Linked DNA regions of Homo sapiens: all the other regions are linked to region 3. Evidence: fine-mapped expression QTL. A gene starts in region 3. Each other region holds a variant in brackets. All regions are shown on one strand. Distances are from middle to middle. Region 1 has its middle 4.8 kb from the start of KCNJ11. Region 2 overlaps NCR3LG1 (natural killer cell cytotoxicity receptor 3 ligand 1). Region 3 holds the start of NCR3LG1 (natural killer cell cytotoxicity receptor 3 ligand 1).

What was found.
Region 1: its variant is fine-mapped to the expression of NCR3LG1 in monocytes (Quach 2016, PIP 0.95).
Region 2: its variant is fine-mapped to the expression of NCR3LG1 in esophagus mucosa (GTEx, PIP above 0.99).

What each region holds. Positions count from the first base shown.
Region 1 is chr11:17,382,570-17,385,220 of GRCh38, forward strand. No RefSeq gene overlaps it. Among named protein-coding and RNA genes, the nearest start is that of KCNJ11, 4.8 kb to the right of the region's middle. The variant T/C (reference allele first, on the strand shown) is at 1,092.
Region 2 is chr11:17,377,310-17,379,960 of GRCh38, forward strand. It overlaps NCR3LG1 (natural killer cell cytotoxicity receptor 3 ligand 1), which reads left to right. Exons shown (of 5, transcript NM_001202439.3): 5 at 1-32. Among named protein-coding and RNA genes, the nearest start is that of KCNJ11, 10 kb to the right of the region's middle. RefSeq lists an enhancer at 876-2,075. The variant C/T (reference allele first, on the strand shown) is at 1,431.
Region 3 is chr11:17,350,490-17,353,140 of GRCh38, forward strand. NCR3LG1 (natural killer cell cytotoxicity receptor 3 ligand 1) reads left to right here and starts at 1,311. Exons shown (of 5, transcript NM_001202439.3): 1 at 1,311-1,550. The coding sequence starts at 1,481. LOC105376576 (a long non-coding RNA gene) reads right to left here and starts at 1,377. Exons shown (of 3, transcript XR_931094.3): 1 at 1,290-1,377; 2 at 548-685; 3 at 324-422. RefSeq lists a silencer at 1,133-1,252 and enhancers at 1,249-1,850, 1,851-2,452.

The DNA.
Region 1 (2,651 bases), 32 kb after region 3:
GGGTCTCATGGTGACATTGGCTGGAGATGCCAAATCCACAGGCGTTAGGCCTGGGCAGGTTCTAGTGTGCGAGTGGGCTAGTTTTTCTAGACTAGCACACAGGAAGAGGGTGGCCTGGCTTGCCTTCCCTCTGAAGCTCAGGACTGAGGCCCAGGACATGTCTCACACCATTGATATGAGTTGGGGACAGATGGGTGGCAGATGTGCCCAATCAGGCTGCATTGACACCTGACTGGCTGGAAGAAGAGCCTGTAAAGCAAAGAGCCCAGTCTTCCTGTAAGAAGGAAGAAGATGGAGGGCTCATCATGCACGTGGGCCAGAAAAAGTGCCAGTGAGGTTGTTCTGACTCCATAGGTGTTCTGGACATAATCTAGGCTGTCACAAAACAGCCAAGCCTGCTGCCAGTTTCCAATCTGGGATCTCAGGGAGGCCCAGGGGCTTGCTGAGTTCCACCTTCCCTCTTTCCCTTGGTTTGGAGACAACTTTCTCCCTGTGGTGAATGTGACACTTAGAACAAGGTGCAGCCCTACTAAAAGCTGGAGCTTAGGTCACTGGGACTGTGTGCTAGGGGAAAGAGGGGGAGGGAAGAGCAGGGCTGTGGCATTAGACAGACTTTGGCTGAAATCTTGGACCTGCCTCCTACTAGCTGTGAGATCTTAGCAAATTACTTCCTGCTATAGGCTAAATGTCTGTGTCCCCCTAAAATGCACATGTTAAATCCTGATGCCCAAGGTGATGGTATTTGGAAGCGGGGCCTTTGGGAGGTGATGAGGGTGGAATCCTCATGAATGGGATTAGTACCCTTATGTAACAAGGCCCCAGAGAGCTCCCTCACACCTTCCACCATGTAAGATTACAGGGGAAAGACAGGCCCTTCAGCAGACACTGAATCCACTGGCACCTTGATCTTGGACTTCCTAGCCTCCAGACTGTGAGTAATAAATGTCTATTGTTTATAAGCCACCCAGTCTATGGTATTTTGTTATAGAAGCCTGAATGGTCTAAGACACCACCCTTTCTGACCCTGTGTCCTCATCTACAAACTCAAAGAAGAACAGTGCTTCTCTCATAGTCCTGCTGGGCCACAGTGA[T/C]ACATGGTACTTCCCTTCTCCTTTTCAGGGGCCCTGGAGTTGAGACAGCTCTGCACATAGCGTGTGGATGGGCCAGACTGCTTCCTCTGCTGTCACATGATGACTAAGGGATGCAATCCTGGAGGCAGAATATCACAAACAAAATTATCACAGAAGTTCCTGCTGGGCTGAGTAGTGCTCAGGTGAACTTCTTTGTCCAGTTGAGGCCAGTGCCATAGAGAAAGGGTGCCCCCAGATGGAGGTAGCACCATCAGTGGGCAAGAACACCTTCGCGGAGGAGGGAGGCTTGGTCGAACTGCCTCTCTATGCCTGGAGCTTTCCAGCCCCTCCCTGGGTTATGCCTTAAGGCTGGGGGTCTCCCTCAGAGTTGGTGGAAAACCTAGGACCAGTGGTCCTGATTTTTCTCTGCCGAAGTAAGTCTTCTCTGTGGCCAGCAGGTGGCGCTAAGCCCTCAGTTCTGTGGGCTTCACACTCACCAGCAGCTTAAGGTCCCTGAGGGGTGGAGGAAGGTTACTCTGGTTTGGGCTCCAAGGATGGTACTGCCAGCAGGTCCTTAGTGAGTCTGGCCTTTCTCCTTGGCCTTAATGGCAGCCAAGCTGAGTCGCAAGAGCCAGCCTCCTAGGATCCTGGGCTGACTCTGAGTAGCTTTCACCCCTTCACCCTCAAAACCAGAAATGGGTCAGCTCTGCAAGGAAGGGAATCAGCGCTGGGGACTGCATGGGTGCTGGGAGAGGGCAGCTTAGAGCTCAGACCAGCAGCGGCAACTTCCTGGCCCCTTGGCCCTGCCTCTGGAGCCGCCTGAGACAGACCCTCACTGATGCCCTGTCTGCAGGCCTCACACTGTAGCAATAACCCTGGCTTTTTGTCCTGTACGCCATCCATCCGTTATTCATTCATTCATTTGTTCATTCATGTAGCACCTACTCCATGTAAGCCAGCCACAGTGCTGAGTCACAGTCCCTGACCTCAGGAAGCCATGGACTTGTGGATGGGGAGACAGACCCCTAAACGTAGGCAAAAGGAGAATGCCCACAGCACAGCAGAGGGAAGGGACCTTCCTTTTCCAGAGAAATCAGGGAAGGTTTCGAGGAGGCATCACTCAGCCTGGATTTTTATGGATTTCAACAGACAGAGATGAGGCCTGGGCAGTCCAGGCCAAGGGAGTAACATAAGCAAGGTCTGGGAGGTAGGAAGCTCAACATTATGTGTCAGGAGGGATAGGACAGCGAGGTACCTAGGGAAGTGGGTGGGCAAGTGCAGACTCCTGGCAAGAAAACAGTGGGCCATAAGGCCGGAGAGGCAGTCACAGCCTGAAATGGCTGCTAAGAAGCTAGCCTTGACCCAGAGGTGATGGGGAACTACCGAAGGTATTTCATGATGAGGGTGGGGGGTGACCCACCCTTCTAAGACCACCCTGGAGGCTGTGTGGCAGATGGACTACAGTGGGTGAGATGGAGACAAGGGGACCAGGTCACAGGCATTGCCACAGCCCCTAAAATCGTGGTCTCAGCTAGGAGGGGACACCGTGTGGAAAGAAAGACCTGGCAAAGAAACATGACC
Region 2 (2,651 bases), 27 kb after region 3:
GTACTAATAATACAAAAAAAAAAAAAAAAAAAGCCAGGCGTGGTGGTGCATGCCTGTAGTCCCAGCTACTCGGGAGGCTGAGGCAGGAGAATTGCGTGAACCCGGGAAGCAGAAGTTGCAGAAAGCCAAGATTGTGCCACTGCACTCTAGCCTGGGCAACAGAGTAAGTCTCCATCTCAAAAAACAAACAAACAAACAAAACTCAATTTATCAGGTGGACCTTTCTCATTTAGCATGTAAAATTCCAAATGGCATCGTGAGTGACTATCCTGAGTATAGATATCCCCATCCCAAAGATGTTCCTATTACATGCAGGAGGGGGAAGCTTCTAAGATATGAGAAAGATCTGCCTGTGTCTCTCACAAGCTACAACTTAGAACTGGCCCTTCAGGGGACAGGGCTTTATTTCCTTTGTGGCTCCTGGCTACACTTAATCCTCCCTAGGCACTGGAAGGGAACCTGCACTATCGTGGCAGTGGTTCCTGACCTGTTATCTTTAAATTCCACTGATATGGCAGCATCATCTGGGGACATCCCTAGCCTAGCGTCTTTTCTAGTGAGTGTGCTATCTCAGATGCGCTGAACAAAGAGGTCTATCATTTCCATGCCCTCATATGGAGACTTAACTGAAAGAGAAGATTGGGTAGGACCTGCACATGACAATCCTATCTCAGAAAAACCATGGATAGGGGATTCTATAGTCAGAGGCCTATTCTGGTTTGCTGGTATTCCTCTCCTTGAAAAATCAGTACTTAATATTTCTATTATGATGCCACAAGGGTAGAAGCTAACAGTAGGAGCCATAGAAGCACAACAACAATTCATAAACTCTTTAGCCTCAGTAGTTATGCAAAATAGACAGGCCCTAGATATCCTTATGGCCAAAGTAGGGGGTACCTGTGCACTTTTAAAAAGAAGCATGTCACTTCTAGATCAATACCTCTAGTCAAGTAGAAGAGAATGTACAGGTGCTTAAAGATCAAATTAGAACATTGACAGATTAAGAGAGAATGCGGGCTCCAGTCCCAGTTGGCTACAATCCCTCTTAAATGGATTCCAGTCTTCTTTGTGGAACTGGTTAGCTCCTTTATTAGGCCCCCTTTTGCTCGTGTGTTTTGTACTAATGTTTGGACTTTGTATATTCAATACTGTAACTCAAATTGTTTCCTCTCACTTAGAGGCTATTAAACTCCAAATGGTGCTGCAGATAGAACCACACATAGACACGCCATTCTTCTGGGGACCCTTAGACCAATCTCAGGAGGAGCCCTAACTGCTGTAACCCCAACGACGCCCCCTTCCAGCAGGAAGCAGCCAGGAGTGGTCATCGTCCACTTTCCCCAACAGCAGTTGGGGTCTCCACTCCTGAAGCAGGGAATGAGAAAGGAGGAAGGAAGAAACCAGTCAGACAGGCAGTTAGGGTGGGTCCT[C/T]GGTAAAATTCTTCCAAACAAAAGAACAGCTTGAAAAATCAAACTGCAGGCACAGAGAAGAGAACTTGTACAGGGAGGCTTGCCTTAGACATGTCCACAGCTGCCTAGGTAAGAAAGACTACACAGGAGACTTGCCCAGAGATGCCCACAATGGAAAATTCCATTCCCTGAGACATGCGCAGTAAGGGGAACAAAGCCATATGGAGTAACTCAAGCTAAGGGCCTGCATGCACACTGGGAGGATAGGGTAGAACTACCAGAAATTCATGCTTTATGCAAATGAGATGCCCAGCACTCATCAATTTCTTACAAAAGCCTCTGTATTCAACTGTGAAATGGCGACACTCTTTTGGGCCCCCTCTTGGCAGTGGGGAGCTTTCTTTTTTCACTTTTTAAATTTTTGCTCCAACCTCACCTTTGGGGTCCATGCTCCTTAATTTTCTTGGTTATGAGACAAAGAACTTCAGGTGATACCTTGGGCAATGAGAGACTGCTACATTGTGGTGCATTGGTGAGACTGTAAAACTATCAGTTTATTGCTGATAACCCCAACATCAGCAATGATGCTTATGGAAAAAGAAAACAAACCCTTTATGATCAGCTGGATCCTTTAGTTGTTTGCAAAGATGACTCCAATCCTACACCCTTCCCTGAATCCATGTCCATTGCTGTGTAACTTTGTAGTGCCTCTAACTGTGTGACCTCTTTCAGCCAACTTAAGAAGACAGCAGTGAAGGCGTGCCAGTTCCAAGTGTAAGCCCCAAGAGGTCTTGTGTGTCTTCATTTGCTTCCTCGTGTGCTTCTAATGGTGCTGGGAGAAGAACAGGTCGAGACTAGCCTGCTGGAGGATGAGAGATGCTGGCTACCACATCCTTGTTGCTCCAGTGGAGGCCAGGCTAGATTAGATGACAGCCACCTGACTCCATGTGAGCAAATCTGAGATCAGCAGAGCTGGCAGAGCCAACTCTCAAATACTTGGAAAATACTTTTAATATGTAAAACATTTTAAATATTACATTAATATTTAAAATGTTTTTTAAAGCCACTGTTTTATACTGGCTTTGTTACACAGCATAAGCTAAGTGCTACAACTCCTCAGGAAGCTGAGCTTTGACCAAAAGAAGTGTGGTAGCCACAGAGATGTGTCTGAGACCCCCTTCGAGAGAGAGCCTGTGTGAGGAGTGCAGTCAGCTGATGGGCTCCAGCTACAGATCTCAGGGA
Region 3 (2,651 bases):
CCTGCCGGTTTTACCCTTTAGAGTAAAAAGGGTACAAAAAAATTACCAAAACAGTAAAAATTACCAAAAGAGTAATTTGATAATTTCTACAGGGTGATGTGTATGTGTCACAACTTTGTGAATCACTATTCTGGGCATGTATAAGAAGTCGTCATATACCTCCATTGGGAATGTTATTTAATGATGTCACTAATACCAGACAAGGATGTCTCCTCAGGTAAGGCTCCTTGGAGGAGGCAGAGGTTGAGAAGAGGTGTAATTTAGGTTTTAAAAATTCAATAGCTGGACTTAACCTTGCATATCTCTACCTGTTATAACGGTGGTCCGGAAGGCTGCGATCTGAAGGCCCCTCAGCTAGTTGCTGCCACTGTGGGCACTCTGCGCATCTTTCACTTCTGAGCTCTTTCTGTATGCACTCTGTTCTGCAGATAAGTGAGAATGTGACTATTTGCTTAGTCAGTGACAGTGTCTCTAACCCTGGAAAGGAAGCTTTTACTCTCTCAGTTTTAGAGACATGTGAACAGGCTGGGGATATGAGGTCACTTACCCACTGTCTTATAATCAGCAGATGGCATGGTTGGCATTGGAGTTTAGGTCTGTCTGTGCTTTTCTGTACATTACATCCTTTTTAATGATGCGAAGGAAAAATGCAGTAGGGTCAATGAGACAAATGGAATGCAGGTTGCTGGGGAAAGAATGCAGGTTCTGCGTTATAAATGCACACACATTTACTGTGCCACTTGGGTTCTGAACTTTGCGGTTAAATTGATTTAAAAACTGGTGTAGAGGTGGTAAAACTTAATCACCGAATGAGAATATTTGGGTTTGCTTCAGGAGGTCGCAAGCCACTTCTTGATTAGTAGAAATGGGAAATTAAGGGCCACCTTCAGGCGTTTAACTGAATTGTCCTGGGGATTTAATTTGCCTTTCGACTTAATGCTAAATTTTTGTTGTTTTTGGTTTTTAAAGTAATGTAAGTTTATCGCGCCAACGGTAAGATGTCGCTCTGGACGCGTGCACCTGCTCTCGCAATCACCGACTGCGGTCAGCATCTTCCTTAGAGCAGCGCCCCGGGCCACTTGGATCCCGGTCTCAATTTACTAAGCGAACCCAGAGGATGCCCCGAGTCCTGGACCGCAGAGCCGCTCGCGAGAGGCACCGGGGCTGTAACCGCGCAACCTCGTGCCGCGGGCGGAGGCGAGGGAGGATTCCCCGGCCGGTGCCCGCCCCCGGGCTAAAGTGCGGCGCGGGTGGGGCTGGTCACGCGCCTGGCTTCCTGCAGTGCGAACCTGGGAAATCCAGGCGACTTCGCAGTTGCCGAAGGGATCTGAAGAAGTGGGATGTGCAAAAGCGCCGGCTGGAAATCCCGGCTGTGTCTCCGTCAACTCTTTACGCAACAGAGGTCTCCCCCTGCCCTTGGTTTCTACCGGGCCGCCTGCTCCCACTCGGCGAAAAAAATTACACAACAGCAGCCGCGGCGATGACGTGGAGGGCTGCCGCCTCCACGTGCGCGGCGCTCCTGATTCTGCTGTGGGCGCTGACGACCGAAGGTAGGGGGCGGCTGGGGTGGGCTGGGGCGGGGGCTCCTGGCGCCAGAGGGTCCTCGCGGGTCGGCTCCCTAGCATCCCGCCAGGGGACCTCAACTTCCTGGGGGCTGAGAGCTCTATTTTCTTTTCTATTTCTTCTCCTTTTTTTTTTTTTTTTTTTTTGAGACGGAGTCTCGCTCTGTCTCCCAGGCTGGAGTGAAGTGGCGCGATCTCGGCTCACTGCAAGCTCCGCCTCCCAGGTTCACGCCATTCTCCTGCCTCAGACTCCCGAGTAGCTGGGACCACAGGCGCCCGCCACCATGCCCGGCTAATTTTTTGTACTTTTAGTAGAGACGGGGTTTCACAGTGTTAGCCAAGATGGTCTCCTTGACCTAGTGATCCAGCCGCCTCGGCCTCCCAAAGTGCGGGGATTACAGGCGTGAGCCCCCGCGCCCGGCCTGGGGGCTCTATTTTCAAGCGTCCCTCCTTTGTGAGAAGCGGAGTCCCCGATGCAACAGGTTTACATTGAAGGCCTGCCCTGTGCAGGGTCGACACCTGTGAGAGCGGAAACGGTGCTTCCTTGGATGTCGCGCGTTTGGTGCCTCGGTATTTGGCGCCTCTCTCGCATCATCCGAGGGGCCGGAGGAGAGAAGAAAATCAGGGAATCGGTAAATTGGAAAAATCATTCATCCGCATATCAGTGGGTCCTCCTGGCTTTGCTAAGTTAGGTCTTTACTGAGAGAGGGAGGGGAGTGTTTTGATCTTGTGGTGACCTTCAAACGTTCTCTTGCTTTTTTGGGAACTCGTATGGGCGTGTTCTGCGTTAACTTAAACAGGAGACTAAAAGGCTGAAACGCGTATGTAGAGATATTTAAACTCATTTCTAACTAGAAGAATGGCAATTAAACAACAAGATGCTGCTTGACCCTTACTAGGCTGGCCAAAATACGCTCCTGGGTGCCGGGTGGTGGAGGTGGAATGTAGGAATCCCGGAGGCGCGCTCTGGGCGCCCCGAGTCACTGCAGGTGGAGGAGAGCCGCGTGTGGACCTCACCGTGGAGACCTTGGCGGCAGCTTCACACCACGCCCTTGCTGCTTGCCGAGCAGCGTGAACGGATGTTGAAGG